Linked DNA regions of Homo sapiens. The protein of the gene in region 1 purifies or fractionates together with the protein of each later gene. This does not show direct contact. Each region holds a gene or a part of one and is shown in the gene's direction. Other genes may lie near its edges. The genes, in order: CPLX3, ARL8B, KLHL24, ACP3, PKP1, SIRT5 and PADI3.

The links.
Region 2: the proteins of CPLX3 (region 1) and ARL8B purify together in Homo sapiens (affinity purification with mass spectrometry; 2 studies listed by BioGRID and IntAct, with this or other methods). This does not show direct contact.
Region 3: the proteins of CPLX3 (region 1) and KLHL24 purify together in Homo sapiens (affinity purification with mass spectrometry; one large-scale study listed by BioGRID and IntAct). This does not show direct contact.
Region 4: the proteins of CPLX3 (region 1) and ACP3 purify together in Homo sapiens (affinity purification with mass spectrometry; 2 studies listed by BioGRID and IntAct, with this or other methods). This does not show direct contact.
Region 5: the proteins of CPLX3 (region 1) and PKP1 purify together in Homo sapiens (affinity purification with mass spectrometry; one large-scale study listed by BioGRID and IntAct). This does not show direct contact.
Region 6: the proteins of CPLX3 (region 1) and SIRT5 purify together in Homo sapiens (affinity purification with mass spectrometry; 2 studies listed by BioGRID and IntAct, with this or other methods). This does not show direct contact.
Region 7: the proteins of CPLX3 (region 1) and PADI3 purify together in Homo sapiens (affinity purification with mass spectrometry; one large-scale study listed by BioGRID and IntAct). This does not show direct contact.

Annotation. Positions count from the first base shown.
Region 1 is NC_000015.10:74,829,012-74,832,689, forward strand, and holds the end of CPLX3 (complexin-3), read left to right. Parts: intron 1-106; exon of another isoform or gene 107-690; intron 691-1,118; coding exon 1,119-1,343; 3' UTR 1,344-2,791; downstream 2,792-3,678.
Region 2 is NC_000003.12:5,177,116-5,181,617, forward strand, and holds the end of ARL8B (ADP-ribosylation factor-like protein 8B), read left to right. Parts: intron 1-1,548; coding exon 1,549-1,598; 3' UTR 1,599-3,796; downstream 3,797-4,502. UniProt on the Homo sapiens protein: Small GTPase which cycles between active GTP-bound and inactive GDP-bound states.
Region 3 is NC_000003.12:183,682,821-183,686,021, forward strand, and holds the end of KLHL24 (kelch-like protein 24), read left to right. Parts: 3' UTR 1-1,699; downstream 1,700-3,201. UniProt on the Homo sapiens protein: Necessary to maintain the balance between intermediate filament stability and degradation, a process that is essential for skin integrity.
Region 4 is NC_000003.12:132,344,506-132,349,007, forward strand, and holds part of ACP3 (prostatic acid phosphatase isoform PAP precursor), read left to right. Parts: intron 1-421; coding exon 422-554; intron 555-4,502. UniProt on the Homo sapiens protein: A non-specific tyrosine phosphatase that dephosphorylates a diverse number of substrates under acidic conditions (pH 4-6) including alkyl, aryl, and acyl orthophosphate monoesters and phosphorylated proteins.
Region 5 is NC_000001.11:201,317,717-201,322,218, forward strand, and holds part of PKP1 (plakophilin-1), read left to right. Parts: coding exon 1-63; intron 64-901; coding exon 902-1,079; intron 1,080-2,099; coding exon of another isoform or gene 2,100-2,162; intron 2,163-2,550; coding exon 2,551-2,665; intron 2,666-4,261; coding exon 4,262-4,417; intron 4,418-4,502. UniProt on the Homo sapiens protein: A component of desmosome cell-cell junctions which are required for positive regulation of cellular adhesion.
Region 6 is NC_000006.12:13,601,707-13,606,208, forward strand, and holds part of SIRT5 (NAD-dependent protein deacylase sirtuin-5, mitochondrial), read left to right. Parts: intron 1-2,769; coding exon of another isoform or gene 2,770-2,812; exon of another isoform or gene 2,813-4,033; intron 4,034-4,502. UniProt on the Homo sapiens protein: NAD-dependent lysine demalonylase, desuccinylase and deglutarylase that specifically removes malonyl, succinyl and glutaryl groups on target proteins.
Region 7 is NC_000001.11:17,269,188-17,273,689, forward strand, and holds part of PADI3 (protein-arginine deiminase type-3), read left to right. Parts: intron 1-1,045; coding exon 1,046-1,224; intron 1,225-1,691; coding exon 1,692-1,795; intron 1,796-1,879; coding exon 1,880-1,991; intron 1,992-4,152; coding exon 4,153-4,260; intron 4,261-4,502. UniProt on the Homo sapiens protein: Catalyzes the deimination of arginine residues of proteins.

The DNA of each region.
Region 1 (3,678 bases):
CTGATTTTGATCTTCCACTTGAATTGAATGACCAAATATATGAACATCACATTCACTCATTCAACAAATATTTACTGAGTCCCCAGCTGCTTCTGACTCCCCACAGGGCACCAATCTTTTGGAAATCTGTCACGGGGAAAAACCGGTCCAGAAAGCCTGCCTCACTGCAAACTCTTCTAGGAATAAAATCATTCCTCAGATGCTTGCGCTAGGCATATAAGAGACACCTGCCATCAGCAAAGTCAGAGTTGAGCAGAAGAGCCAAGACTTGGATGCAACTGAGTAGGACATAAGGCGCCCCCCAGAAGAATAGTGAAGGGCAATGGTCATCGTAGGTGCCATGCAAAAAAACACAGATGTTGGAATCAGTGACATAGGTTTGAATCTAGCTCCCCAACATCCTGCCTGTGTGATCTTGGATAATTTAAGTTACTTAAGTTACTTAAGTTAGTTAAGTAACTTAAATTTAAAGTAAGTTACTTAAATCCTGTAAGCCTCAATTTCCTTATTTGTGAAGTGGAAATAACAATACCTACCTACCTCACAGGGTTATTGTGAGAATTAAAAGCACCCAGCTCAACGTCTGCCATGTAATAGATATAATAGATGTTTGATAAATGGTACCCATCACTATTTTTGGTTACACCCTTAAGCATAACAAGAGTCAAAACATGACTTAGCTGACTGTAACAGTGTGACTCATAGGTATTTTCATTTTGTCTTTACTCACTGTGCTGGTCCTTCAGCATCTCAGAGTGAAATAAGGTAATATAAAAAGGTCTCCATGTCCAGGCATCAAACGCTTGATCCTGGGATGTGGGGGTGGGAGCTGAGCTCACTGGAACATGGGGCTCAAGAATCTAAGGGGCCGGGCACAGTGGCTCATTCCTGTATTCCCCCGGCACTTTGGGAGGCCAAGGTGGGCATATCACTTGAGCCCAGGAGTTTGAGACCAGCGTGGGCAACATAGGGAGACCTCGTCTCTACAAAAAAAAAAAAAAAGAAAAAATAGAATCTAGGGGCCTGGAACCCAGTCCAAGCCTCCTCCCTGTCCTCTCAACTCTGGGTCCTCACAGACTTCCACTCCACCCCACCCCCTCTTCCCCTCTTCCCTTCAGAACGAGACAGATGAGAGCCAGATCCAGATGGCAGGTGGAGACGTGGAGCTGCCCCGGGAGCTGGCCAAGATGATCGAGGAGGACACAGAGGAGGAGGAGGAGAAGGCCTCAGTCCTTGGGCAGCTGGCCAGCCTTCCTGGCTTGAACCTGGGCTCACTCAAGGACAAGGCCCAGGCCACACTGGGGGATCTCAAGCAATCAGCTGAGAAGTGTCACGTCATGTGACCACTTCCCCGGGGTTACCCACTGGGCTGGGCCCCCATGAGGGCTAAGAGTGTGTCAACTTCCAGGGACCCATACTCCATTTGGGGCTTTGTTTCCCTTGCCCCATCCTAGTTCCAAGACCTTTCCCATCCATGCCCCAAGCCTATCTTCTGGTTTCTTCCTCTCCGCTGGGAGTAAAGTCCCCATCTTCACTCTACCCTTCAGGACCCTCCCCACCAGCTCAGCCTGTGGAGGCCTCCCAAGATTGTAGGAATAGGCCCATCCCTCTCTGGCCATGGCCCCAAGTTCCTGCACACAGGAGCACCCACAGAGAGACACACACAGGACACAAAACCCCTGGCACGTTCAGAGACAGAAGCCACAGATACATCCCGGCACAGACAGACACACACGAGGCCAGCTCCCTTGCGTGTCCAGCCCCTCCAGACACCACCACTCAGAAACTCTGAGAGAGAGCATGGGCAGACACCCTCAGCAGACAGGAGGCCTGAGTTCCAGTCTCCACCTTTATTGTTCTTGAAAGCCCCTGCTCTCTCTGAGCCTTATTTCATCATCTGTAAAATGGGAATGTCCTGAATGACTTCTAAGGCTCTTTCTGGCTTGAACTGTCAGAGCCAAGCCCACATCCCTCCTTGGGCAGGGCAGCAGCTGCTGCCACAGCCTCCAGCGGCTGCCACTGTGGGCTCTGGGAGCCGGAGCGATGCTGTGTGAGAGGCAGAGTGCCAAGGATGAAGCTGGCACTGAACAGTAAGCGGCTCCAGGCCTCCTCTGGGCCCAGGGCCCAGCCAATTTCTGTTCTGTTCCTGTAGAACGCTCTCTGGATTCCATAGCTGGAATCTCCTCTCTTAGCTCAGTGAAAAATAAAAATCCCAAATGGTGTGCCTACCTTCCCACTTCTTACTGGCTTCCAGGAGTCTTGGAGTTCATAGCCCCCCGAGCCTGCCTTAAAGGGGTGTCCTCCACCCCCCACCTACAGCTTCACAGGAGGGGAGAAGGCATCCAGTGCTAGGAGTAGAAGTGTCTCCAGCTCTGTTCTCTTGGGGCCCTGGGTGAAGGTGGGGTCTGGGGCTTATGAAATAGGTCTGGGCTTTGAGGAGGATGGAGCAGCCTCATTATGTGGGGAAGATGGGGCCTCTGGGGCGTCACTGAGACCACAGGTGGGGCCGGGGCTGGACCGCAGCTGTCTTGGGTGCCTGTGCCTACACCCCTCCTCACCCTAGAGACGGAAGATGTGCAAAAAGAAAGAAGGAAGGGCAACTGCATTCCAGCCCCACACTGTGATGACTTTGAGCCTGTCCTTTCCCTCCTTGAGCCTGTCTTGCTTGTCCCCTGTAAAATGAACAGTCCCCCTCTCCCCCAAATAGTAATAATACATGTTTCAAAGGGTGACCATTTATAAAGCATATGACAAACCATATCAATAAATGTAACTCATTCTTTTAAAAAAATGAAGAGCCCAGATCTCATCCCGCTCACCTGTGGCAGGGGCTGAGGGGCAGGGGTCAGGGGAGGTTTAAGAAACCAGCCAGGAAGCTCCCCAAGCAGGTCGCCCCAGGGGCCTGGGCAGGAGGAAGGTGCTATGGGGCCAACCCTAGGTGCCCCACCCCGAGGTCCAGGGCCCGGCCTGTAGGGAAGCCAGCCAAGGTTCACAGGCAGGAGCGGCTGTCTGAGGATTGGGTTTCAAGGGCAAAGTTTCCATGAGGTCTCCTTTGTAAAATAAAAACAAGGCATATACAACCTGTACAGGAGATCATGCGGGGCTGGAAGAGAGGAGACAGGGCAGGGAGAGACACAGGCCCAGCCCTGGAGTCTGCTGCTGAAGCTGTCACTCTTGGTCTCACTCTCCTGAGTGTCCCCAGGGAATGGGCCTGGGCCTCTGAGCTGCTCCTGGGCTGCCCCCAGGCCAGGGCCTCCTCCTGACCTTCTCAGAGCTGGAGGAGACCCAAGCCAGAGCCCCAAGCCGGGTAGGGGGGTCATGGGCTGCCTCCGCAGCATCAGCAGCAAGGCCCACGTCAGCACTCCGCCCTCCGGGGCCTTCTGCCTAATGGGATTCGACAGACCCCTTCCCCCTCAGTGCTTCGCAGGGCCGAGAAGGAGAGGCAGGGGTGGTGGGCAGTGGGGGCTGGGGAACTTGCACTCGCTGAACCCTGTCAAAGCAAGGCTGGTTGGAACCTGGATTAAAGGTCGGGAGAGGGGTGAGCCCCCACATTAGTTTCCCCTTCACCCTGGGAGCGGAACTCCAAGAAGCCCTGACCAGTTTGCACTATCCCTGGAATGGGGTGGAGGAGGCTGTGGGGCTCAGATAGAGATGGACAATGAGGGTAGGCTGAGGGGT
Region 2 (4,502 bases), on another chromosome or scaffold:
ACTTCCTGAAAAAAAAACAAAATCTCTTGGGCTCATATATGGAAGTGCAGTAGAGCTGTGAGGACTTCTTTCGCTATTTGAGGCTGATCTTTATAGTTGGCTAAATAGCTCAGTAGTAATTTTAGAACTCCTGGCTCACTTAAAAGGTTGTCAAGCCCAAGGAATCTGATCCAGTCTAATAAGATCCACTCTAATAAAATTCGAAATAAGTATTTTGTAGATCAGTTCATCTGAGTATCTTATTTCTGTTGTCTTTTTGCCTATTCATAAAGATCCATTTGTCTTTAGGATATGAACTTCTATCAGTATCCACAGAGGCTTTGTGTAATTTTTTAGTGAATTTCTTTTTTTTTTTTTTTGAGATGGAGTTTCACTCTTGTGGCCCAGCTGGAGTGCAGTGGCGCAATTTTGGCTCACTGCAACCTCCGCCTCCTGGGTTCAAGTGATCTCCTGCCTCAGCCTCCCGAGTAGCTGGGATTACAGGCGCCCGCTGCCGTGCTCGGCTAATTTTTGTATTTTTAGTAGAGATGGGGTTTCACCATGTTGGCCAGGCTGGTCTCAAACTGCTGACCTCAGGTGATCACCTGCCTCGGCCTCCCAAAGTGTGGGATTACAGGTGTGAGCCACCGTGCCCGGCCATGAATTTCTTAAATATTTAAATTTGGTTATTTCACTTCAGATTTACCTTTCTCCCATTCAGTTCCAATGAGTGTGGCTTTGCTCGTATTGTGCACTGTTGTCCCCATTTTAAGGTGCAGAGGTGCTTCTTCAGTAGTTGGGTTAAATCATTGCTTCCACAATGGTGAACAGTTCATGTTTGTTATAGCTCAGCCCTGTGGTGTTTCGTTAATGCATGTTAGCTGGGAAACTGGTAGTGAATTTACCCTCATCTTTCAGGCTTGGAGAATAGAGTGGTGCTTCTGATAGACTCTCATGTACCCTTCTGAAGAAGTGAGGACAAGAATTACCCAGCCCCAGATGTCAAAAGGGCATGGTGTGAACCCTGCACCAGCCTTGGCAGTGACAGCCTCCTCTCCCATCCCTGTGCTTTAGTCACATTGTATCACTCACAATCCATCCAGAGCTCCACAATGTTTCATGCCTTTTAACATTCTTTTGCTGTTTTTTTTTTTTAACCTGGAGTTCTGTGGGGTGGCCCCCAAGCCCCGGGAATTACTGCATCTTTTCTGTGTATTATACTTAAAAGCGCCTTGAGGGCAAACAGGGGTTATTCCTTTTTTTTTTTTTTTTTTTTTGCCTTCCTGGCAATTTGCATGCAACACCTGATTGATTGTGTGGGCAACACATAAAAGGTGGCACCAGCCGTCCTATACACAACTTAATTTTTAAATCAGAAAACGCTTCAGTCTCTGATAATTCCTCATATTCTCTTGAAGTTCGGGTAATGGAGTATGGTAATGCAGATGCAGAAAAGCAGCAGAGGTCAGGCATAGTGTGTGCCTTGAATTAGCTGCCTTTTAAATATTGTCTCTGTTTGATGTTTAGTTTTTTAACTTTAATGTCTTCACTTTTCCCCTCTATCTTTAGATATCACACTTCAGTGGCTTATTCAGCATTCAAAATCTAGAAGAAGCTGAAGCATCTCCTGAAGTCTTCCAGTCCTTCTTGGCTATAATCCTAGAATTATTGTCCGTTCCTCTGAAGTAATTCCCAGAATACGGTCCTTCCTAAACCCCAGAAATTGCCTTTTTCAGAGTTTATTTCTCATGTGCACTGCTGAAGATGAATATCCCTAATCCTTCATAAAGAATCAGCTAGAGTTGTCATGATAAAGTCAGCACACACAAAAAGGCTTCTTACACATACCTGTCTTAAACCATGTGTAGAGCTTTAAAAACAGAAAAAAAACCCCATATACTTATGACCATCTTAAATCAAGAAAATTGCATATTTCCATTCTGGTCTTTCTGGGCCAGATTTTTATATTGGTTTTCAGTAAATGTCTATCTATAATATTTCATTATAGAGTCCAGTAGCTTAATACTGACACTGACTTGATACAGCATGAAGTTTCTAGTGCCACACACAGTATTTAGAAAACCTTTAGGCGTGAATGACTCATGTGGGATATATGTAAACATAATGTTTATTTTATCTCACAAATGCATGTGAAATGTATAATTACATCTTAGGAATCCAAAATGGTCTGCAGAGAGTGAGCGGAGGCACCAGATCAATGTTGGTTCTTTGCACTGGTGAGATTCTGCCTGATGAATATTAAAGATATCCTGCTTTCTGAGAACTCTATCACCAGATGGCAGTTGGGATATGGGAGGAACTAAAGCATCCTGTTTTGTATCTGTCCAGATCATTATTTCTGTCTCTTGTTTTTTCTTCCTGGTTCAGGATACTTTTTTAAGGGGTTGAGAATTGAAGATTTTCCAAAAGCGTTCATGAATTTAGAGCATTCCACCCAATATAATAAAACCTGTTAAGAATGTCAGTCTTTGTTCAAACATCTGTTTGTTCTATCTCCAGTCATTAAATCAGTGCTGCTGCATGACACTCTTAACTCCTGACTTTTTATATCCAGTCATAAAGTTGACTTTCAGCACAAAAGATACTTATAAACAAATAAAAAATTTTTATTTTTCTCTCTTACTGATGTAAGCTTTGGCACTCTTTTGACTGGTGCCATTAGACATCTTGATTATTGTGACAACTCTAGACCTGCCTGCTTTATCTAATGTAATCATGCTCAATGTCTACAGGTTGTTTAATAATCAGTCACACAGAGAACTGAGGAACTGATGCTGTTTGTTTGCTTCTATGATACAGAGATGTCTAAAAACTTCAAATGGACATGTTTTGTAGTTTAGCGACTTCCGTATACATAAAGGGACATATTAATACTGGTTCATTTGTAAATTATTATTCATATAGACCACTGTAGTAGATAAAACTCTATGGTACACCTGCTTATGTGTTGCCTCACACTGTGTGTGATTTTGTTTCTTTTGTTAAGCAGCACTTATGTAGACTGCATTTCCAAATGTGTTGAGCACTCAGAGTGTAGTCAACAGTAAGTTCTTTTAATGAATATCAGTTTTAATTTATAGACTGCCATGGCCTTAAAAATATTCTGTACAATATACTGCACTGTGTTGCACAGACACTACTTGCTTTTCTCCATTCATATTTTTATGAGTAGAATCTGGGCTTTTAAATTTCTCTTCTTATTCTTTGAAGCATGTTGCATACTACCCTGGTGGGATGGATGGTTCTGTAAATGAAGGGATATTTAAACTTGCTACTGTTGTTCAACACCATTAATGGTCAGTGTGAACCATTACAAAGAATGTGGCAACTTGCTTGTGCCTAAAAGGAGGAATTGGAACTAGAATGTGTGACTCTGTGGGGACTGCATAGGTTTGTTAATTGACCTATAGCTAAACCTTAATGTGTTTGTGTGTCTATACATTGCTTTCCGCATTTCAAGACATCCAGACGCTATTACCAACATTTTCCTGTGCATTAACCTCTGCATGTGAAAACTTTTAACAGTTACTGAACTATGTAAATATGTGAATTTTTTTATTTAGGTGGATGCATTTTTTGTCTGTTTACTGCTCTTCTCAGCTTTATTCAATAAACTTGCATTTTAAGGGTTGTATTGGCAATTTTAACTTAAAATGTGCATCATGATGGAAGGTGCAGACTTTTTTGGAAGTTTCCGAGAGGAGGGTCTATAGACCATTTGTCAGAAATCAGATCAGCCCTCAAAGAATGGGGTCTGTGGGCTAGTTAAAATAGAAATAAACTTTTAAAATATCCACAGAATTGATATTGTGATTTTTTGGGGGCGGGGGAAATGCTACTACTTGTCAACGGTCACAATACACCAAATTTAGGACTTTAAGTGGCAAGTGCTAGTAAAACATTTTATGTCCCAGTTTTTACAAATCAAACCAAGACCCTGCTAAGCAAATGAAGTTGCAAGACATGCCTATTCACTGACTTCAGTTCAGAATGGAAATATTTTAAGTACCGAACATGCTGGTTTTCCCACAAAGGCACATTTTTAGCATAAAGCTTTTTGCTAGTTTGGTATCATCTGCCCATAAAATAAGTCAATACTTGAGCTATTGGAAAAATAATTGTGTATATTTTTATTTGTTTAGAAAGGTTCAGTTAGCATTTTCTCCATACGCATACTACAATTCTGTACAGCCAACCCTTAGTGGCCAGTTGGATGCATGATTTCGCGTTTATTTCCCTGGAACGTCACGTTGATGTGTTTTTGTCTTTTCACTGCATTACTGGAGCCATGTAGTCAAGCATCAAGTTTCATCCACTTCTCACCATTCTCCTACCAAGGGGGTGAGTGTGTGAGAGTTGAGGGTGAGGATGGGGGAACACGGAGGATATACATTTAGCTTAATTCTAAATGTGTATCTGCTTTTAAAAACTTCTAAACTTATAAAGTTGGTCTTTGATTCTGTCAAGTAAATTGGGTGTTTGAGGAACTAACTGCTTTGTCT
Region 3 (3,201 bases), on another chromosome or scaffold:
TTAAATTGCTGTGAGAACCCATATATGAAAAGAGAGGAGTTGAATTGTGTGTGCCTTTTATGTCTTGAGATTTATATGTGGAAAAGACGACATCTACTTCAAACTGTATTTTTTTCGTTTTTTTTTTTTTTTGGGGAAGGGGGGAGAACGGGGTCTTGCTCTGTCGCCCAGGCTGGAGTGCAGTGGCGCGATCTCAGCTGACTGCAACCTCCACCTCCCGGGTTCAAGGGATTCTGCCTCAGCCTCCCGAGTAGCTGAGACCACAGGTGCGTGCCACCACACCCGGCTAATTTTTTTGTATTTTTAGTAGAGACGGGGTTTAGTAGAGACGGATCACTCCTGACCACGTGATCCGCCCACCTCGGCCTCCCAAAGTGCTGGGATTACAGGCGTGAGCCACCACCCCCGGCCTGTATTTTCAGAGAGGAGAGCTTGGTGTTTTTGTGGTGCCAAGTGGTAAGATAATGTCTCTTTGAGGCTTCCTATGGACTGCCTTTATTTTAGTAAACTCAAGACACCAGTTAACCTCAACAGAGTTTTGGCCTTATTAGAATTTGTTGTGCATCTTATTGAAAGCCAGGTTTACATCACCTCACCCCATTATTCTTTTTAGTTAAATAAATTTACCATGCCAAGTAACCAGAATGGAGCAAATTGGTTGATCTTTAAGGCAGTAGGTTTGACTAGCTAGCTATCATTATTGTCACATCTAATGCTAGGCACCAGAAACCATTTGAGCCAGGAGTGTGAATGAATAATTCCAGAGACACTTTAGACATTTTTTAATGTTTTATATGAACATTTTACATTTGTGTGATTGCCTTAGATATTAAATTTTCCTAGTGCTGATAAAAACAGCAACATTCATAACTTATTTTATATATTGTTCCAAAGAAAAGAATTTGTTTTAATGGTTTCAAAATAACTGCACCTGAATTTGTTTATGTGCCTTAAGTTCTCTAGTGCTATTTCAACTTTTTTTTCAATCTAAATGAAGCTTACCTTAGATAAGGTTCATATTTGTTTCCTATAGAGTAAATAAACTTCCCCTTCTTAAATTGTGTAATAAGCACCAACGTGTGGTTGCTTGGCAGAATGAGAATGTTAAGGGAGATTGTTGGATGTTTGGAGTTTCATTATATTTTTTGTTTTTATTTTTTGATACCTAGGTGCTTTTTAAAATATTCAGACAAATATCTATCTTACATTGATTAAACCCGTGTAAATTCATTTGCAGTATCTACATCGAATGTCAAAAAAGTATACTTATTTTTGTTCCATACTTATGTACAATTTTTTCCCTCTTCAGGCTTTTTCATTTACCTTTTTGAAAAAGCACTTACTCTCCCCTTCCCTATCACCCCTCCCCCAAGGTTTCTTTATTTAAATTTTTATTGAGAGTTGTTGGAGCTCTAAGACAATACAAATTTAGAGTTGAACAAAAGTATAATCTGCTTTACAACTAGTATAGACCTAAGGTCATTTGCTTTCAATTAGAGGCTCCAGAGTCTTCATAGTGGAAAGAATGCTTTGTATTTAATTGTTCTTAGTTAAGTTGTAGCACGTGAATACTTACTTACATGTTTTGTTTAAATATACTTCTTGCATAGTTTAATTTTTTAAAAGTTGTATCTAATAAAATGTCTTTTAACCATTATTACTTGACTATATGGTTGTATTAAATTTTGTTTACGAAAAATTTGTTGTTCTGTTTTATTTTAAGTATATTTAAGGGGTTGTGCAAAAAAGAGATGGGGAAAATACTGGATATATTAATATATGTGTGTATTTACTGGTATGTCCATAAAATAACTGGAAGGATAAATAAGAAACTGAAAATATTAGTGTGTAAGAGGAAAGGAAATGGTGGCTGAAGGACAAGTAAAAATGAAACTTTACTGCATACGTATATGTGTGTAATTATAAATACATATAAAATCAATTTTTTAGTCTGAAACACACGAAAGTATTCCCTATTCAAAAAAAAAAATTTTTTTTTTCTTTTTTTGAGACGGAGTCTCACTCTGTCACCCAGGCTGGAGAGCAGTGGTGCAGTCTTGGCTTACTGCAACCTCTGCCTCCTGGGTTCAAGCGATTCTCGTGCTTCAGCCTCCTGAGTACCTGGGACTACAGGTGCATGCCACCACGCCCGGCTAATTTTTCTTTTTATATTTTTAGTAGAGACAGGGTTTCACCGTGTTAGCCAGGATGGTCTCGCTCTCCTGACCTCGTGATCCTCCCGCCTCAGCCTCCCAAAGTGCTGGGATTACAGGTGTGAGCCACTGCACCCAGCCTCTTCTATTATACTTTAAATTTTCTGTTTAAAAAAAAATGACCTGGCTGGGCACAGTGGCTCACGCCTGTATTCCCAGCACTTTGGGAGGCCAAGGCGGGAGGATCACGAGGTCAAGGGATTGAGAACATCCTGGCCAACATGGTGAAACCCCATCTCTACTAAAAATACAAAAATTAGCTAGGCATGGTGGTGTGTGCCTGCAGTCCCAGCTACTTGGGGAGGCTGAGGCAGGAGAATCGCTTGAACCCAGGAGGCGGAGGTTGCAGTGAGCCAAGATCGAGCCACTGCACTCCAGCCTGGGCGACAGAGCGAGACTCCGTCTCAAAAAAAAAAAATAAATAAAATAACCTGCTGTCTTAATGGAATGTGGAGGGAAATGGACTATACCTGCCTTCTGCTTCTCTGCTATTTATTAACTGATAATGGAGACAGAAGGGATAGTTTCCTCCTAATTATGTTAGGATATATTTTTTTTTTTCGAGACAGGATCTCACTGTGTCACCCAGATTGAACTGCAGTGGCACAATCATGGCTCATGGCAGCCTCAATTTCCTGGACTCAGGTGATTCTCCTACCTTAGCATCCCTAGTAGCTATAGGACTACAGATTCATGCCACCACGCCTAGCTAATTTTTAAATTTTTTGTAGATACAGGGGGTCTTGCTGTGTTGCCCAGGCTGCTCTCAAACTCCTGACTTCAAGTGATCCTTCTGCCTTGGCCTCCCAAAGTGCTGGGATTACAGGCATGAGCCACAATGCCCAGCTCACATAAATCTCCTATACAAAATATAGATATCAACATTGTACAAGGAGTATAAATTAAGAGTCAGAAAAATCATATGAGCCTTCCCAGCTATCAGATTATCATATCAATCAATATTAAGATTTTTTCCTTTAAAACAGAC
Region 4 (4,502 bases), on another chromosome or scaffold:
TATTACTGAAGGCTCCAGAAATATATTGCCTTTCCTAACTGGCCTCTCAGGCAGCCCATTCAGCTTTTAAGGAAATATCATTTAACTCTGTCAGGTTCATAGAAAGATTTCTAACCCTTTCATAAAGGAATGAGGTATTATTTCCCTACTGCACCCTTACTCTGCAAAATATGAGCCACCCACTGATCCAGAGTTAAACCAAAAGCTATGGACTGGGTAGGAATGGGTAAATTCATTTATATAAGCTTTTCTTCTGAAAGTCAATACCACTACTTATCACAATATGAAGTTCTTTTAGAAAGAAATGGCAGGACAAGAAAGTCTGGCCCTACTAGTTCTTGTGAGGTGAAAAAGGATAAGTCAACAAAGAGGACAGTCATATAAATACACATACATTTTTCTTCCTTTTTCTTTGCTACAGAGTGTTCACAATTTCACTTTACCCTCCTGGGCCACTGAGGACACCATGACTAAGTTGAGAGAATTGTCAGAATTGTCCCTCCTGTCCCTCTATGGAATTCACAAGCAGAAAGAGAAATCTAGGCTCCAAGGGGGTAAGTATTAAAAAATGAGAGGAGCATATTGGATTTGTGGTTGAATGATCCAGGTCTGAGTCATTCCCTCCACTAATCAACTGTGTGATCTCAGACAGTTCACTTAATCACTCTTGCACCAGCTTCCATTCTGCAAAATGGGGATATTAATGATACCTACTTCATAGACAGTGAGTATTAAAATGAATGTATGTATTCAAATGGCTTAGAGCAAACAGTACCTGGTACATAATACACTGTCAATAAATGTCATATGTTAGTATAATCATAACTATTACTCACTCAAGCCCTTAGTTTTCTATCTGGAAAATGAAAGCTAAAGCTAAATGATCCTTTCCATCCCCTCCAGATCAAAAATCAAGGATCTGTGTCTGAGCCACATGAAAATCAATTGTGTCTTGTGGCCTATATGATGAATTTTTCAAGTGGGAGGTATGACAAAAGTGGCCTGTTTTCCTGAAACCCTGAGTGGTAGTCATTGTGAAAGCCGATAAAATATATTTTTCAGGCTAATTGTTATATTTTTCAGACCAATTATGTGCTGTTAAAATATGTTGCAATTGACAAGTTTATAACACAGCTTGAAATTTTTCATTGACATTGAAAGCTGTTGAGATTTATTTATCAGTGATGCCTCTTCTTGGTTAGAACTGGCTCTTCGTAGCACAGGACACCCTGTCATATGAAGGCAGACCCAGGCAAGAGGATGCTGGATTCTTGTAATCAGGATAAGTGGATGGAAGAAAAAAGTCAGGACCAGCAAAGACAAGGACAGATGTTGGGGCTTATGAGAGAAACTGGATGGGCAGGCCAAGATACCAAATGAGGTGTCAGACTTAGATGTGGTTATCATAGGTATTAAAACTAGGGATAAAGAAGAAGAGAAAGTTCATCATGTCAGGTTGACGTAATGAGGAAAGTCCAAGCCACAGGAGATGGTCCAAGTCAGGCTGACACACATATTCAAGGCATTTTGAGATTAATACAATCACATCATGATTCCAGCCATTGACAGACACTATTCACCACAGCATCAGGACAAGTCCATCAAAATCCCAAGAGAATGCATAGAGGCAAAGCATATTAGGGCTGGACCAGACTGGGAGGTTGTTCACTGAGGCTACTTAACTAGGGAAAAAATTCAAATCACTGACCAGAAAAGGAATCAATTATAGCTAGAAAAGCAGGGCTGCACACCAGGTATAAAGAGTGAGGCAAGCTGTAACCAGGGGAATGAGGTATGAAACCAGGATGGTCAGGAGCAAATTCATGTGAGATGAATAAAGTAGGTTGGGGCAAAAAATTTAGGACAGTGGCCATTAACGACATGAGGTTGTTGTAGATCTGCTATTACAAAAATCCTGATTGCATGGCACAGAGACAGACTTGATAGAAATGTGCAAGTCCTTACTTCACATTAAACACATGAGCAACAAGATCCAGCCTTGAGGAAGGGAGAGTCTCCAGAGAGGAGTCTTAGATGGAAGCTGGAGTGTTGGAAAAAATTACCAGGCGGGATACAGACTGTGTCTATGGGCAGAACCCAGGAAGAAGCTCAATCTTAAGTGCTTAACAACAAAAGATGTAGAGGGTGCCTTGGAAGCCACATAAGCACTCAGCCTCATTTCTGGCCCACCAGGTGCCAGCAGTGTGACTCAGTTGCAAGCCCCATCAAATGGTGGAAGCGGGACTCTTGATTTATTTCCCCCAACCTAGTTATGGTGGATTCAGGCACCTAGTCCCTCACAACTCAAAGTGCAGTCTACTTTTCAGCATCGGCATCAACTACCACCTGGCTAGAAACACAGGCCCCACTCCCAAACGAGTTGAATCAGGATCTGCATTTGAATAAAATCCCAACATGCTTTATACCAGACAGGAGTTGACAGTAGTCTAATAGTAGATGTAGGGATGTGTATGTATGAATAAGAAATGGAGTTGCTCCACTTTCCTCATGTTTCCTCTTTTATTTCCCTTGCCTACTAGAAGATTACATTTGGGAGAAGCCACTTCCCCTCTCTGGATCTCTGTTTCACTACCTATGAGGAGATTAAACTAGACTGTCTATAAGAGTCCTTCTCTGAGTTGTTCTCTGATCTTGGATTCTAAAGGCTGGCACTTGTATGAAACCAGCTGTCCTGCTTTCTGGAAAAAGTCCAGCGCCATTGTTAAGCAGGAAAATTTCTCCTGTGTGGTTCTGCCAAAACAAAAGCTCAGACTATTATTCAGATCTGGCTGGGCAAGAGAGATTTGTCAACTACATGTTTATTGAATGATGAAACAGCTGCACACATTCCTGCACAGAAAACACACATTGTCTAGGTGACAAAGAGTAATGTGGACACATCAGGGCCATCTTCTGACCTTTGCTAGTTTTTTTGTTAGTTTGTTTTGTTTTTGTTTCTTTGTATTTTTTGTTTGTTTTTGTGTCTGTTTTTGAGACAGGGTCTCATTCTGTCCTCCAGGCTGGAGTGCAGCAGCATGATCACGGCTCACTGTAGCCTTGACCTCCCAGGCTCAAGCGATCCTCCCACCTCAGACTCCCAAGTAGCTGGGACTACAGTCATGCACCACCATGCCCAGCTAAATTTTTTTTAAATTTTTTGCAAAGACAGGGTCTCCTTATGTTGCCCAGGCTAGTCTTGAACTCCTGGGCTCAAGCGATCCTCCACCTTGGCCTCCCAAAGTTCTGGGATTATAGGCATGAACTACTGTGCCCAGTCTAGAATTTTTATTTCATCATTTAACTTCAGGGGTGACACTGTTCAGTAAGACACACACACATACACACACACACACACACACACACACACCAAAAAAATCCCTGGGGCAAATTTAGGATCATATGGCTGGTCATATCAGTGAAAAGAGAGCTCTTCTTGCTCTAGGCCAGAGGTTGGCAAACTACTGCCTGTATGCCTAATCCAGCCCACTACCTGGTTTTGTAAATAAAGTTTTATTGAAATACAGCCACACTCATTCATTTATGCATTGTCTATTGCTGCTTTCATGCTACCACCGCAGAGCTGAGTAGTTGCAACAGATTTTTTAACCCACAAAGCCTAAGACATTTACTCTCTGGACTTTTACAGAAAAGTTTGCCAACCTCTGCTGTAGACTAGAAATGAAGGAAGCAAAGTTTATGTCTTCAGGTCAATGATATTTTTGTCTAGTTTACGAAGATTTAATAAAGGATACAACAGATAACTTTGAAGCTAGCTTTCCACGATAGCATGTTCTAATGATTACAAATAAAGGTTTTGACACAGGACATGCTAGATTTAAAGCCCTCCTTCTCTGCTTGCAAGTTGTATAATCTAATCAAGTTTCTGAGCCTCTCCAAGCCTCAGTTTCCCCTATAAAACAGAATATTGATATGCCAGAGCCTGAGGATAATCATGATAGTCACCCCTAATCACTCCTGGGATAAGGGTGTAATCATACCAGAACCAAGAACTGATATATTCATGACCAAAACTGCAGCCTGACTAAAAGGCACTTGTTGACAAAGGGCAACTTGCTGATTTCAGGTGGCTGTCATGGCTCCCAAAAGCTTGGCCACAGAGTTTAGCACCAACATGGCATGTGAATCAAGCTAAAGTCCCTAATGCATTCCACAGGGCAACCCTCTCTGAGATGGAGGGATTTAGACCTGTTAGACATGTACATTCAGATTATCCTATTCATCCTCAAGGAATTTCCAGTATCTTATAGAAAGAGCAGATACCTACCTCCTTAATTAACCCTTTTTTATACTTACTGGTGTACAGACCTGTCTCTTCTTACTATTTTATGAGTTTTTGGAGGGCAGGGACCAGGTCTGATTCTCCTAGCACAGTATCTGGCGCATCATAGCTGCTCAGTGTGTGTTTGTTGAGTGGACTACAGAACCTGAGATTATAGTCAATCTGTTAATATCAATGCCCTGCTCATTACAACTCACACACA
Region 5 (4,502 bases), on another chromosome or scaffold:
TCCGCGAGGCAGTCAGCCTCCTGAGGAGAACCGGGAACGCCGAGATCCAGAAGCAGCTGACTGGTAGGACAACACGGCCACCGAGAGCCAGCCTGAGGGCTGTGCAAGGCCACTGGCTATGGCCCCAGGCTGGGGTGCAAGCCTGTCTCTCCAGGCTGGGCCAAGACACAGCTGTGCAGATTTGGCCCAGGGCTAATATCCTGAGAGTTTAGTGACACTGGCCTTGGCCCAATTAGGGGTGTCCAGAGGGTGACCTTGGGTGGTGTGCACACACAAGGGGTCACCATCTTTTTGAGGTTAAAGAGCAAAAGGAGGAAGGCTGATGTCCAGGCAAGATCCATATTCCACAAGCCCTGGGATTCCCAGGTGATGGAAAGAGAGTAAGACTGAGGGGAGAAGGGGTTAACAGGCCTTAAGCACCTACCCTGTGTTCAAGAAATATGGTAGGCACTCAAGGTGGGGGGCACAAGAGGAAGAGGTCACCGTGAAGACCTAGAATTGGGCTGGGAAGATCAGACCATGTACAGAGTAATGACTGATAAGTATTTCTGGCATAACTTTCAGATGGAAAAGAGACAGCGTTAGAAGACTCCAAGTGCTAAAATTTATACTAAAAACCACTGATCAATCAAACGTTTTTTGATCACTTTCCACATGCATAATTTTGGCCTTGACAGAGAACTCTGAGATGTTCCCTGCCTGCAAAGAACCTTCAGTCTGGTTGGGGCATTGAGAAATAGCCTCATGACACAGACAGACAATAGGTTCTACAGACCAGGGCTACCTGGAAAGCGACATTTCAGTAGGGCCCATTTGCCAGAGTCCAGGCTGGGGCTGTTACCTCGGTCCCTAGGGCATCCTGAGCCTGGCACAAATTGGGTTGATGGTCTCTGACCCCCAGGGCTGCTCTGGAACCTGTCTTCCACTGACGAGCTGAAGGAGGAACTCATTGCCGACGCCCTGCCTGTTCTGGCCGACCGCGTCATCATTCCCTTCTCTGGCTGGTGCGATGGCAATAGCAACATGTCCCGGGAAGTGGTGGACCCTGAGGTCTTCTTCAATGCCACAGGCTGCTTGAGGTGAGAGAAGAGGATACATGGGGTCTTTTTGTCCCAGCCTTGGGCCCTTCCCCAGGCAGCCCCATCTCAGCCAACATTCAGCCGGTGCATAGAACATAACAGACAACCCGGCACTCCCTCTTATGGGCAGGCTCCAAGACACAGGGACTCAGGCCTTCCTAACTTCCCTGGAACTGGATAAGGCCCAGGACCCTACCACCCCCTTTGAGAGAATGCAGCGGACATTAGTCAGAAATCTGAGCTTGAAAATGCCTAGATCTGAATATCCAAACTGGTTCAACCATTTCCCTCCTCCACCCCATGAAAAAAAATGCATTTCTTGTGCTATCATCTTGAAGAGTGTTCTTTTAGACAAAAGTCTACCGATGGGTTGCTAATGAGTCACTTCCCAGCTGTGGTGTTAAAACCATTTGCCATGTTCATTGGCATGAAGATGGCACTGCTTCACCCAAAGTTGCCTAAGTTCCATACCAGGGTGTGGCAAAGCCCCTGTGGGGCTGGTGGGAGGGCTTGTTCTAGAAGCAGTGGTTTACAAGCTGGCGAAATGGGTGGGTGTGGAGGGGCGGCTGGTACAGGGCTTGGAACCCTGGAGCAGGATCCCTTTTAGGGTCTTTAATGGGGTTTGTCTTGCTTTAATGGGATTTGTCTTTCCCAACTCCTGAGAATCCCCCCAGAGTGGTGGGTGCAGCTGGCATGTGCCTCTGTGTCTCAACTTGTGTTTCTCCCTGCCAGCCTCCGGTAGCAGCCTCCAGGAAGCAGAGAGGCTGGGGAGATGAAAAGTGAGGATAATTAAGAGTTTTATGGGGTTGATGTGCTACTGGTAGCAACAGCAGCCACACCCCACCTGCACCAGGCTGATGAGCCCACATTGCTTGGGGATGAGCCCACATTGCTTGGGAGTGAGCCTACTGCTGGGGGCAGAACACAGCTTGGGTGGAGAGGGAGCTTCTGGTGCCCAGCCCGGCCACCCCCAGATCCACTTCTGATCCAGCATCAACAGGGCTTCTTCCTGTCCCACAGAAAGAGACTGGGCATGCGGGAGCTTCTGGCTCTTGTTCCGCAAAGGGCCACTAGTAGCAGGGTGTGAGCCTTGGGATGCAGCTGCGGAGGGACCGTTGCCACATGGAGCCATTGCCAGTTATAAAGTTACTGGGCAGAGTGAAGGAGGAGAAGAACTGAGTGCAAATGAGACCTCATTTCAGCCTCAGCCAGGGCCAGGCGGAATTGGCTAAATGGTTTCTCTTTCCTTCCGTTTTCATCTTTTCCTCTCTTCATTCCTTTCCTCCCTTTCCTCTTCTCCTTCCTTCCTTCTACCACAACTTCCAATCTCCACCCCGTCGTCTCCTCTCTGCCCTCCCCTCTCCTGCCTGTTCTCTCTCCTGCCTGTCCCCCACCACACTCTCTTGTCCCCACCTTCCCCGTTCTCTCTTCCCCCTTTCTCTGCCCTCTTCCACCCTCTTCTCTCCCCCAGGAACCTGAGCTCGGCCGATGCAGGCCGCCAGACCATGCGTAACTACTCAGGGCTCATTGATTCCCTCATGGCCTATGTCCAGAACTGTGTAGCGGCCAGCCGCTGTGACGACAAGGTGAGTGCATCCCCTGGTGGCACCCTGACCCCTAGGCCCAGCCCCCTACATTTTCTGGGTGCCTTTGAGGCCTGGCCCAGTGACAAGACAGGAGCACAGACTCAGGGGTGGTAGAAGAGGCATCTGGATGCAGGGCTCAGTGGTGGCTACAGGAGTGGGCTCTGGGGACAGCGTGCCCATGCAAATCCACTCTCCCTCACTTAGAAGTGGAGTAGATGCAGCTGCTTCCCTAATCTCTCTGTTTCCCGGTTCACTCTTCACTCTAATGGAAAGGGTCATAATCATATCAACCTCAAGGGTTGTCTGAAAGGCTTGATTAGTTAATAAGCAAAACACGAAGAGGGCCTGGCACAGAGGAAGCTCCCAGCGAGCATCTGCTGGCTGTGCTTCATTGGTGGTGCTGAGGCCTGTCCTGTGACCCCGAGCCCTGCCCCACAGCCCAGAGGAATCCATACTGGTGCCCCCAGGGCTTAGTGTCCCCCCTGAGATGAGGCTCCTTCTGCCACTGCTATCTTCCCACTGCCTCCCAGAAAAGCCATTGGCAGTCATCTTGCTGCCCTCTCTGGACTTCTGGACACACAGCACAGACAAACAGAAAGAAAAAAAGTTGTGGAGGGCAGATAAACAGAAGGCTGAGATGTTCCCACCATGGCAGGACAGTGGCTCAGGAGATAGTGAGGCCCAGCAGGCTCCAGATCGCCAGGGAACGGGCTGACATCACAGCACCTGGGTTCTCAGCACAGTTGCCGTAAGGAGGGATTTTATCTCCTGCTCCCTCCACTGGAAGCAACAGCAGGGCCACAGAGGAGAGCCTTGTCACTGGGCTGCTCAGCCTGCTTCCAAAGGGCAAGATGCTTTTCTGCTCTGTGTGCAATATCTCCAACACCTGTGTAACCCCAAGCCCTGGAAGTCAGATTCCCTTAGACCCCAGCAAGGGCCAAACATCATTAGGAGGGTAAATCTGCTGCCCCCAAACCCTAGTCCTTTGGAGGTTTGCCAAAGGAGATTGACAAAGATCTGAGCCCAGCTGCCATGATGAAGCCCTGGGCTCCAGGTGTTGCTGTGTTTTGTGTGGACTTAGCACCGCTGACATTGACAGCTAAGGACTGGCCCCAGGAAGAAAGAATGATGGGGGCACTAGATGGCTTTGGAATCTAGAGGCATGGGGCTTCTTCTGGAGGAGTTTGTTCTGGAAAAAAAAAAAGACACATTCTTCAATATCCCAGTCTGCCCATTGGCATGTTGTCCATAGCAGTCCTACCACACACTAGGCCCTGTGATAAGTGCTTTCTCTGTATCATCTTCCAAATAGCCTAGTGAAATGGACAATTGTAGTCTCATTTTACATTTGAGATAGCTGAGGCCCAGAGAAGTGAGGCCAGTCAAGTTCATGCAGCCAGGAAATGACAGATTCAAACTCAGGTCCCAGAGGTGGCCCTGGAAGACTTCCCAGGCTGATAGTGTGGTGGTGCCTGCGCTCATCTTTCCCGATGCAGCCCAGGTGCCTCTGCTCTCTTATTAGCTAGGGTAGGTGGTAGGCCAGGAGCCTGTCGGGCCGGGCAGAGGCTCAGGCCCATGCCTCTCCTTGGTCCCCAGTCTGTGGAAAACTGCATGTGTGTTCTGCACAACCTCTCCTACCGCCTGGACGCCGAGGTGCCCACCCGCTACCGCCAGCTGGAGTATAACGCCCGCAACGCCTACACCGAGAAGTCCTCCACTGGCTGCTTCAGCAACAAGAGCGACAAGATGATGGTGAGCACAGCATCAGCAGGGCGGGGCCTGCCCCATCAAGCACCCCCCCAGGAGCCACTGCCTCATCTGCCCTTTCCTCTGGGCC
Region 6 (4,502 bases), on another chromosome or scaffold:
GTGCCACCTCATGAAATTTCGATGTCATTGCTCTGAGTTGCAGCCCAGACATCATCATTTTGATAAGCTTCCTAGGTGATTCCTGTGTGCAGCCAGGATAGGAACCACTCTTCTAAGTCTTTGCTGGGATTTAAAAAAAAAAAAGAAAAAAGAAAGAAAAGGGGCCACAGACACTTCAGTAGGCCCCTCCTCAAGTGAGTGAACTGGCTCTGAGCCTCTTCTTTTCCATGTGTCTTTTTGATCAGCTACAGCCTGTGTTCTTGATCCATAGTTCTTCATCTGTGTGTGAGTAGTAGGAACTAAGAAGATAGCCTTAAAAAAAAATTGCCTCCTATGCAAAACTTATACTCTGAAAACTACAGAACATTATTGAAAGAAATAAGGAAGGCCTAAATGAATGGAAACATATCCAGTGTTCATGGATTGGACAACTTAATATGATTAAGATGGCAATGCTCCCCAAATTGATCTATGGGCTCAATCAACTCAGTCCCTATCAAAATCACAACTGGCTTTTGACAGCAATTAATTGAAAAGATTAATCTAAAATTCATATGAAAATGCAAGGGACCCAAAATAGCCAAAACAAAATGAAAAATGAAGTTGGAGAACTCATACTTCCCAATTTCAAAACTTACTATGTATTAACTAGGCATGATGGCACATGCCTGTAATCCCAGCTACTTGGGAGGCTGAGGCAGGAGAATCGCTTGAACCTGGGAGGGGGAGGTTGCAGTGAGCCGAGATTGTGCCATTGCACTCCAGCCTGGGCAACAAGAGTAAAACTCCGTCTCAAAAAAAAAAAAAAACTTACTACAAAGTTGCAGTAATCAAGACAGTGTGGCACTGGCATAGGATAGATATATAGAATCAGTGGAGTAGAATTGAGAGTCCAGTAAAAAACAAAACAAAACAGAACAATAAAACAAACCTCACATTCATGGTCAACTGATTTTTGAAAAGAGTGGCAAGACAATTTGATGAAATACAGTCTTTTTCAAGAAATAGTGCTGGATACCCACATGCAAAAGAATAAGCTTGGACCCCTCTGTCACACCATTACAAAAAATAACCCAAAATGGATCATAGACCTAAATGTAAGAGCTAAAAGTATAAAATGTCAAAAGAAAATGTAGGAGTAAATCTTTGTAACCTTGGGTTAAAGCTTTCTTAGATATGACACCAAAAGAGCAAGTAACATAAGAAAAATGGATAAATTGGACTTTATCAAAATTTAAAACTTCTGTATTCCAATGGGTACCATCGATTAAGTAAAAAGACAACCCACAGGCCGGGTGCGGTGGCTCACGCCTGTAATCCCAGCACTTTGGGAGGCCGAGGCAGGTGGATCATGAGGTCAGGAGATCGAGACCATCCTGGTTAACACGGTGAAACCCCGTCTCTACTAAAAATACAAAAAATTAGCCGGGCGTGGTGGTGGGCGTCTGTAGTCCCAGCTACTCGGGAGGCTGAGGCTGGAGAATGGCGTGAACCCGGGAGGTGGAGCTTGCAGTGAGCCGAGATCGCGCCACTGCACTCCAGCCTGGGCGACAGAGCCAGACTCCGTCTCAAAAAAAAAAAAAAAAAAAAGACAACCCATAGAATCGGAGAAAATATTTGTAAGTCTAATATTTGATATTTGATAAGGGATTTGTATCCAGGATATATAAAGAACTCTTACAACTATAAATAATAAAAAGACAATCCAATTAAAAACCAGGTCAAAATATTTGAAAAGACATTTCTCCAAATATATACACATGGCCAATAAGCATATTGAAATGATGTTCAGTAGCAAAACCACAGTGAGATACCACTTCACAGCCACAAGCGTGGCTATAATTTTTAAGATAAAGGAAAATCACAAGTGTTGGTGAGGAAATTGGAACCCTCATACATGGCTGATGAGAATGTACAATGGCGCAGTCATTTTAGAAAACAATGTGGCATTTAAATATAGGGTTACTATATGATCTAGCAATTCTACTCCTTGGTATATAGTCCTAGAAATGAAATCATACATCTACACAAAAATCTGTACACAAATGTTCATAGCAACTTGTTAATGGAAAAAGTAGAAACAACCCAAACGTCCATCGACTGAAGGATGAATAAATAAAATTTGGTATGTTTGTACAATGGACTATATTTTAGCCATAAAAAGAACGAGATATCCATACATGCTACTACATGGATGACCCTTGAAAACGTTATGCTAAGTGAAAGAAGCCAGTCATAAAAGACCATATATGGTATGACTTCATTTATACGAAATATCTAGAATAGGCAGATCAATAGAGAGAAGGTAGATGAGTGGTTGTTTTGGCTGGGAGTAGGGAGGAATTGGGAGTGGGTGCTAATGAGAACAAGTTTCTTTGAGGTTGTTAAAAATGCTCTAAAGTTGATTGTGGTGATGGTTGTATAATTCTGTGAATACACTAAAAGCCACTGAATTATATATTTGAAATAGGTGGATTGTATGTGAATCAAATCTCAATAAAGCTGTTAGATAAAAAGTTAAATGATCTTCTAACTTATCTCCTGAAAAATGCACATTGAGCCTCCGTCTGATTTGTGTTGTGGCACCTATGTGGAGCAGCTGGGCCACTTAGCATGACTAAGCGTAGTAATACCGGAGCTAGGCAGCTCAAGCCTCCTGTCTGTTTGAAAGACCATCAGAAAACTCGAAGAGTGGGACAGGATAAACTTTGTGAAGCAGGACCTGAGCTATGTCCCCAGTTTGGTTCTTCTAATGTGGTTTCTTTTCAGTCATTTGATCTCCATCTCATCTCTAATTATTATAAAGAATTAAAACAAGTCATCATTGTAGAAAAGCAAGAAAATGCAGATAGAGAAAAAGAAGAAAATAAAACTGGAGTATTTCCACAACCCAAGTTTAGAGTTGGCCCCCACCTCCCATGCCATGGACTGAGCAGCAGGGGCCCAGCATCCCTTGGATATGGTGGCTGTGTCTTCATGTGAAAGAAACTGAACTTGGTGGTTTTTCCTGCCAGTTCAGGAGAGATTCTTGGCATGTAATATATATCACTGCTCAAGTCAAGCCTCCTAAAACCACAGACCTGTTTCAGCTGCTACTTCAGCCAAAATTCTTCAGCTTCATATTGTCTTGAAAACCTATGATTGTCTCTAACAAACAGGCTACTTGCTAGTTAGAAATTCTTATCAATTTGGCAAGCTACTTATCAACCAGACTGACCACAAGAACTGTCATCTCATCAATGAAGGAGTAACTGATCAATGAAGCCAGCAATGCTTTTTTCTTGGCATCATCAAAGCTGACATTTAGAAGAGATGCTGGTGATAGTCATCTCATCCTACTCAATTTTTCAAAGGCAGAAACCAACCCTGGAGCAATTGAGAGGACTGTTTAAACACAGAGCTTAACAATGGCAGAATTGTATATCTCGTGCTTAACAGATTTTGGTTGAACTTTACCCTAGGTCAGGGGTCAGCAAACTACTGCCTGTGGGCCAAATTTGCCCACCACCTGTATCTGTAAATAAGGTTTCATTGGAACACAGCTGTGGCCATATGTTTGTATATTGTGTGTGGCTGCTTTTGCATTAGGATGACAGAGGTGAATAGTTGCAACAGAGACTGGCTGGTCTGCAAAGCCTAAAATATGTCCTGTGTGGCCCTTTACAGAAAAAGTTTTCTAACCCCTGCTCTAGGTTACGGAGAAAAAAAAAATGGAATAATGTTCTCTGCTACTTTTAACCTGATTTTCTTTGTTACCTAAATAGGCAGCTAGAATGCTGCCTATATTTTAATAAGGATTTGGATCTCACAAGACACCTTAGGCCTTACACAAGTTGTTCAGATTCTTTGCCCCAGTTCTAATCTAGTGACAAAGGCATAGAATTCTCCTCCCACAGGAATGTATTTCTATTTTCAAGGTGTTAATTAGTTCCAGTTTTGGTTTTGTCGTTTTCCCCATGTCCGATGCTTATATTGGATGATTTCTGATAAACCCTGACTATTCCAATAAACCCTAGGCATTTTTGAATTTAAACCTCAGTGTTTTGACTGTTACTCAACCCCAGGGGGCCTTGGCTTGTAGGATTTGTACATTCGCTGAGGCAAAAATGGGACTGTCGCTGCAGGGAGCTGGTGGCCAGGGCCTTCAAAGCACCTTTGGCCCACTGTGCCCTGCAGCCACTATGTTGTGCCCTGTTGATCTTTAAATTTCTCTAAATGTTGGAATTTAATTAAAGTCCACAAATATTTGTAAGTATCCACTATGTATCAGACACTTTTCTAAGTGCTTAAGATAGGATATATCAGTAAACAAAACAAATATCTACCAAGGAAAGATTATATTCTAGTGGTTGAGGCAGACAGGTAAGCAGTGAACATAAGGTACACATTCTACAGCACGTGAGCAGGTGCTAAGAGACTGCACAAAGTAAAGATGCACAAACCTCATTAAGAAGAGATTGGAGCAAAGACTTGAAGGAGGTGAAGGAGGCAGCCGAAGACAT
Region 7 (4,502 bases), on another chromosome or scaffold:
ATCTGATTGTCACTGTTAACGAGTTGGGATGTGTGCTTCCCAACTTTATTCTACATGTTCTCCAGCGTGTGTCCATATGCTGCTTTCCAACCGGCTTCTTTCATTAAGTAATAATCCCACACACCTTTTCTGGTATTTATTGAGCTCTACTTCATTCTTTTCCACTGCTGTATAATATTCCTAAGCATAGAGGTGCTGTGACTTACACAGTTCTCTGAACATCATAGTGGTTTGCAGTGTTTTGATTTTATAACAATGCAGGTTGCTTGAGGTCAGGGGCTTTGTTCAAGTCCAGAACCGTGCCCCATGGGTGCACTGTAGTTGCACAGTAAATATTTGATGAATTAATGAATATCGAGCACTCTTGTACAGAAATATTATGTGACTTTGTACCTATTATTGTTTGTTTGTTGTTGTTGTTTTGTTTTTTGTTGGTTTTGGTTTTTTTTGAGATGGATTCTCGCTCCATGCCCAGGCTGGAGTGCAGTGGTGTGATCTTGGCTCACTGCAACCTCCGCCTCCTGGGTTCAAGCAATCCTCCTGCCTAAGCCTCCTGAGTAGCTGGGATTATAGGTGTGCACCACCACCGCCCGGCTAATTTTTGTATTTTTAGTAGAGACAGGGTTTCACTATGTTAGCCAGGCTGGTCTTGAACTCCTAACTTCAGGTGATCCACCGCCTTCGGTCTCCCAAAGTGCTGTGATTACAGACATGAGCCACCGTGCCCAGCCTGTAGATGTATTTTTGTAGGAAAGATACCTAGCAGTGGAATTGCTGGGCTTGGGGTAAACATTACTTTGTTGGATGCTGCCAAATTGTGCTCCAAAAAGGTATGAGCGCCAGTCTTAGAAAGGAAGACCCTTTCCCCCAGCCGTGGCCCCCACTGTGTATTACCTGTCCTCTCCTTTGCCAGTGGAGGTGAAAGGAGGGAGTTGTTGGAGGACTTGGAATTTTTGGTGAGGCTGCAGACCTCTTCCTGTGTCCCTCATACTCATGCTCCCTGGGCCCACAGGGAGTCACAGCCACCCCGTCCCTCCCCTTCCAGGTCCTGAGGATGTGTGTGAGGCCTATAGGCATGTGCTGGGCCAAGATAAGGTGTCCTATGAGGTACCCCGCTTGCATGGGGATGAGGAGCGCTTCTTCGTGGAAGGCCTGTCCTTCCCTGATGCCGGCTTCACAGGACTCATCTCCTTCCATGTCACTCTGCTGGACGACTCCAACGAGGTAGGGACAGAGGGGGTTCAAGAGGAGCTCCACTCGGGACCAGCCTGGGCAACATGGTGAAACCCCATCTCTACAAAAAAAAAAAAAATAGCGAGGTATAGTGGTGTACACCTATAGTCCCAGTTACTTGGGAGGCTGAGGTGGGAGGATCACCTGAACCCCAGGGAGGTTGAGGTTGCAGTGAGCCATGATCACCCCACTGCACTCCACAGCCTGGGCAACAAAGTAAGACCCTGTCTCCAAAAAATAATAATAATAAAGGGCAGTGGGGAGGACTCCATTCCTGGTAAGTCTACCAGGCACCACTGGTGTGAAAGACCCCAGACTTCTTGACCACCCCTCTGGTTCATTTCCATCTTGCAGAGAAGCAAGGGGTTTTCTTATGGACCACAGTGGTGGAATCAGAGTCCCCCCAGGCCTCTGGACTCCAAGTCCAGTGCTCTTTCTCCCCTGGTCTGCCCCTGCAGGATTTCTCGGCATCCCCTATCTTCACTGACACTGTGGTGTTCCGAGTGGCACCCTGGATCATGACGCCCAGCACTCTGCCACCCCTAGAGGTGTATGTGTGCCGGTGAGTCTTGGGGCAGTGGGTGGTCCCTCTGGCCCCCAGGCCCCGGCTCCATCCTGAGCCCCTCTTCCCTGGGCTTGTCCGTAGTGTGAGGAACAACACGTGTTTTGTGGATGCGGTGGCAGAGCTGGCCAGGAAGGCCGGCTGCAAGCTGACCATCTGCCCACAGGCCGAGAACCGCAACGACCGCTGGATCCAGGTAACCACAGCCACTGGGCAGGGCCCAGCAAGGACGCCATCCTGGAGAGAGAGGCCTTCATTTGGGGGCCACCGAGAAACATCCAGGAGGACCTGGGTGCTCCCCAGGGAACTTGCTGCCGTTTCTAATGTGAGACCTAGAGGCTTCTCTCCAGAACCTTCTGGAGACCCACGCTGATCCTGGATTCAACACCCATTCACCCACCGGATCTGGGCTAGGCACTAGGCTAGGCCCACAGGGGTGGCACAGGTGTGAGACACACACTCCCTGCCCTCAACAGCTGAGACCAGTGGTTCTCATCAAGAGGCGATGTGTCCCCAGGAGACGTTTTGCAGTATCTGCAGACAGTGCGCAGGACAAGCCCCCACAATAACATATCATCCAGTCCCACGCCTCAGTAGTGTCGAGGCTGAGAAACCTTGATGTGCAGAATGATTGCTACAAAAATACCTACTCCTACTATCTAGTGTGTAGCTGGGGCAACATGGTGAAACCCTGTCTCTGCAAAAAAGTTAAAAAATTAGCAGGGCATGGTGGCGTGTGTCTGTAGTCCCAGCTACTCTGGAGGCTGAGGTCAGAGGATCACCTGAGTTTAGGAAGGTCAAGGCTGCAGAGAGCTGTGATTGTGCCACTGCACTCCAGCCTCAGCAACAACAACAAAAAAAAAAAAAAAAAAAGAGAGAGAGAGAGAGAGAAAAAGAAATATCTAGGGTGCAGAGGCTATACCAGCAAAGCACCAGTAGGGTTTGGGGGATGCAGCATCACCTCTGCCCAGGGAATCAGTGAAGACCTCCAGGAGGGAGAGCATCTGAGCTGGACCAGATTTGGCAGATGAGGGCACATGACTTCTGCCATTTATGCCCCATTTTCTGCAGGCCAGGCATAGCATCATTTCATCTTCTTGATAACCCCCTGTAAGTCCCCCATAATTCAGGAGCTCTTAGGGGAGCATGACTGGGCCACAGAGCTGGTAAAGGCAGTGCTAGGACTCAGGCTGCCAAGCACCAGGCTGTACAGGTTGGTGGTCCTGGCAGAGACCGAGCATGCGCAAAGGCCCGGGGGTGGGAGGCAGGAGAGAGAACCTTGTGTGTTCTCCTCTGTCAGGGCACTGGTTCTGAGAAAGGCAAGGGTTGAGGTCGGAGACCTTGAATTCCAAGTTAAGGAGCTTTCCTCTTGGCCGGAGGTCAGTCCAGTGAGAGGGTTTGGGGCAGGACTCTGGGGCACGATGGGCTGGGTTTAGAGCCTGGCTGTGCCACCAACTAACTAGCTGTGAGCTTTGGGACAAATATTTTTTAATTTTTATTTATTTTTTTAAATTAATATATTTTGAATTTATTTTTCTTTTTGGAGACAGTGTCTCTCTGTCACCCTGGTTGGAGTGCCATGGCATGATCACAGCTCACTGGCAGCCTGGAACTCCTGGGTTCAAGTGATCCTTCTGCCTCAGTCTCCCGAGTAGCTGAGACCACAGGTGCAGCCACCAGGCTCAGCTAATTTTTTGTAGAGATGGGGTCTTGCCATGTTGCCCAGGGTTGTCTCAAACTCCTGGCCTCAAGCAATCCTCCCGCCTCACCCTCCCAAAGTGCTGGGATTATAGGTGTGAGCCACCGTGCCCGGACTGGATAAATAATTAGACCTCTTAGTTCCTCATTTTCCTCATCTGTCACATGGGATAATTATGGTGCCCACGCCCAGGCATGTCATGAGGATGAATGGAGTTAATGTTTATAAAGAGTTTAGGGCAGGACCTGGATGTGAAGTTCATTCACACTGGGCCATCTTTTCCTCCAGAACCAGAGGGGTCAGGACTGACCTGGGCACATTTATGGATCCAACTCAGGCCACTGTGAGTGCTTCTCTGTGTCCACCTGCCTTGGCCCAGTACTCACAGGGACACCCCCAAGGTCATGTCCATGTTCTCGTTCACCTCCGGCCTCTGTCTTGCTGTGTGACCTTAGACAAGTGCACCCCCTCCTTGAGCCTCCAGCCCCTCCTCCAGTCAGCAGGCACCCTGACCTCGGTCCTGTCCGCCTCCAAGCACAAAACATGCTTGGGCCAGGGGACTTGGTGAGCAGTCTGCCCCACAGGGCTCAGAGCCGAGCCAGCAGGGGCAGCTGTTGACTGTCACAGCTGTGCGTCTCTCGCCTCTCCTCACTTGCAGGATGAGATGGAGCTGGGCTACGTTCAGGCGCCGCACAAGACCCTCCCGGTGGTCTTTGACTCCCCAAGGAATGGGGAACTGCAGGATTTCCCTTACAAAAGAATCCTGGTGAGTGGTCCCGGCCGCAGCCCACCCCTGAGAGCTGAGAGGCCTTACCCCAGGGGCCACACCGGGGTGTGGGGTACAGAGGGCAGCAGTGGGAACCGTGCTCTTTAGGGATGAGGGTAGGGTTGCCAGATAAAATGCAGGGATGCCCAGTCAAATGTGAATTTCAGACAAGCAACAGGTTAACTTTTTGGTGTAAGTACGTCCCAAATATTGCATGGGATATACTTACACTAAAAAAGTTG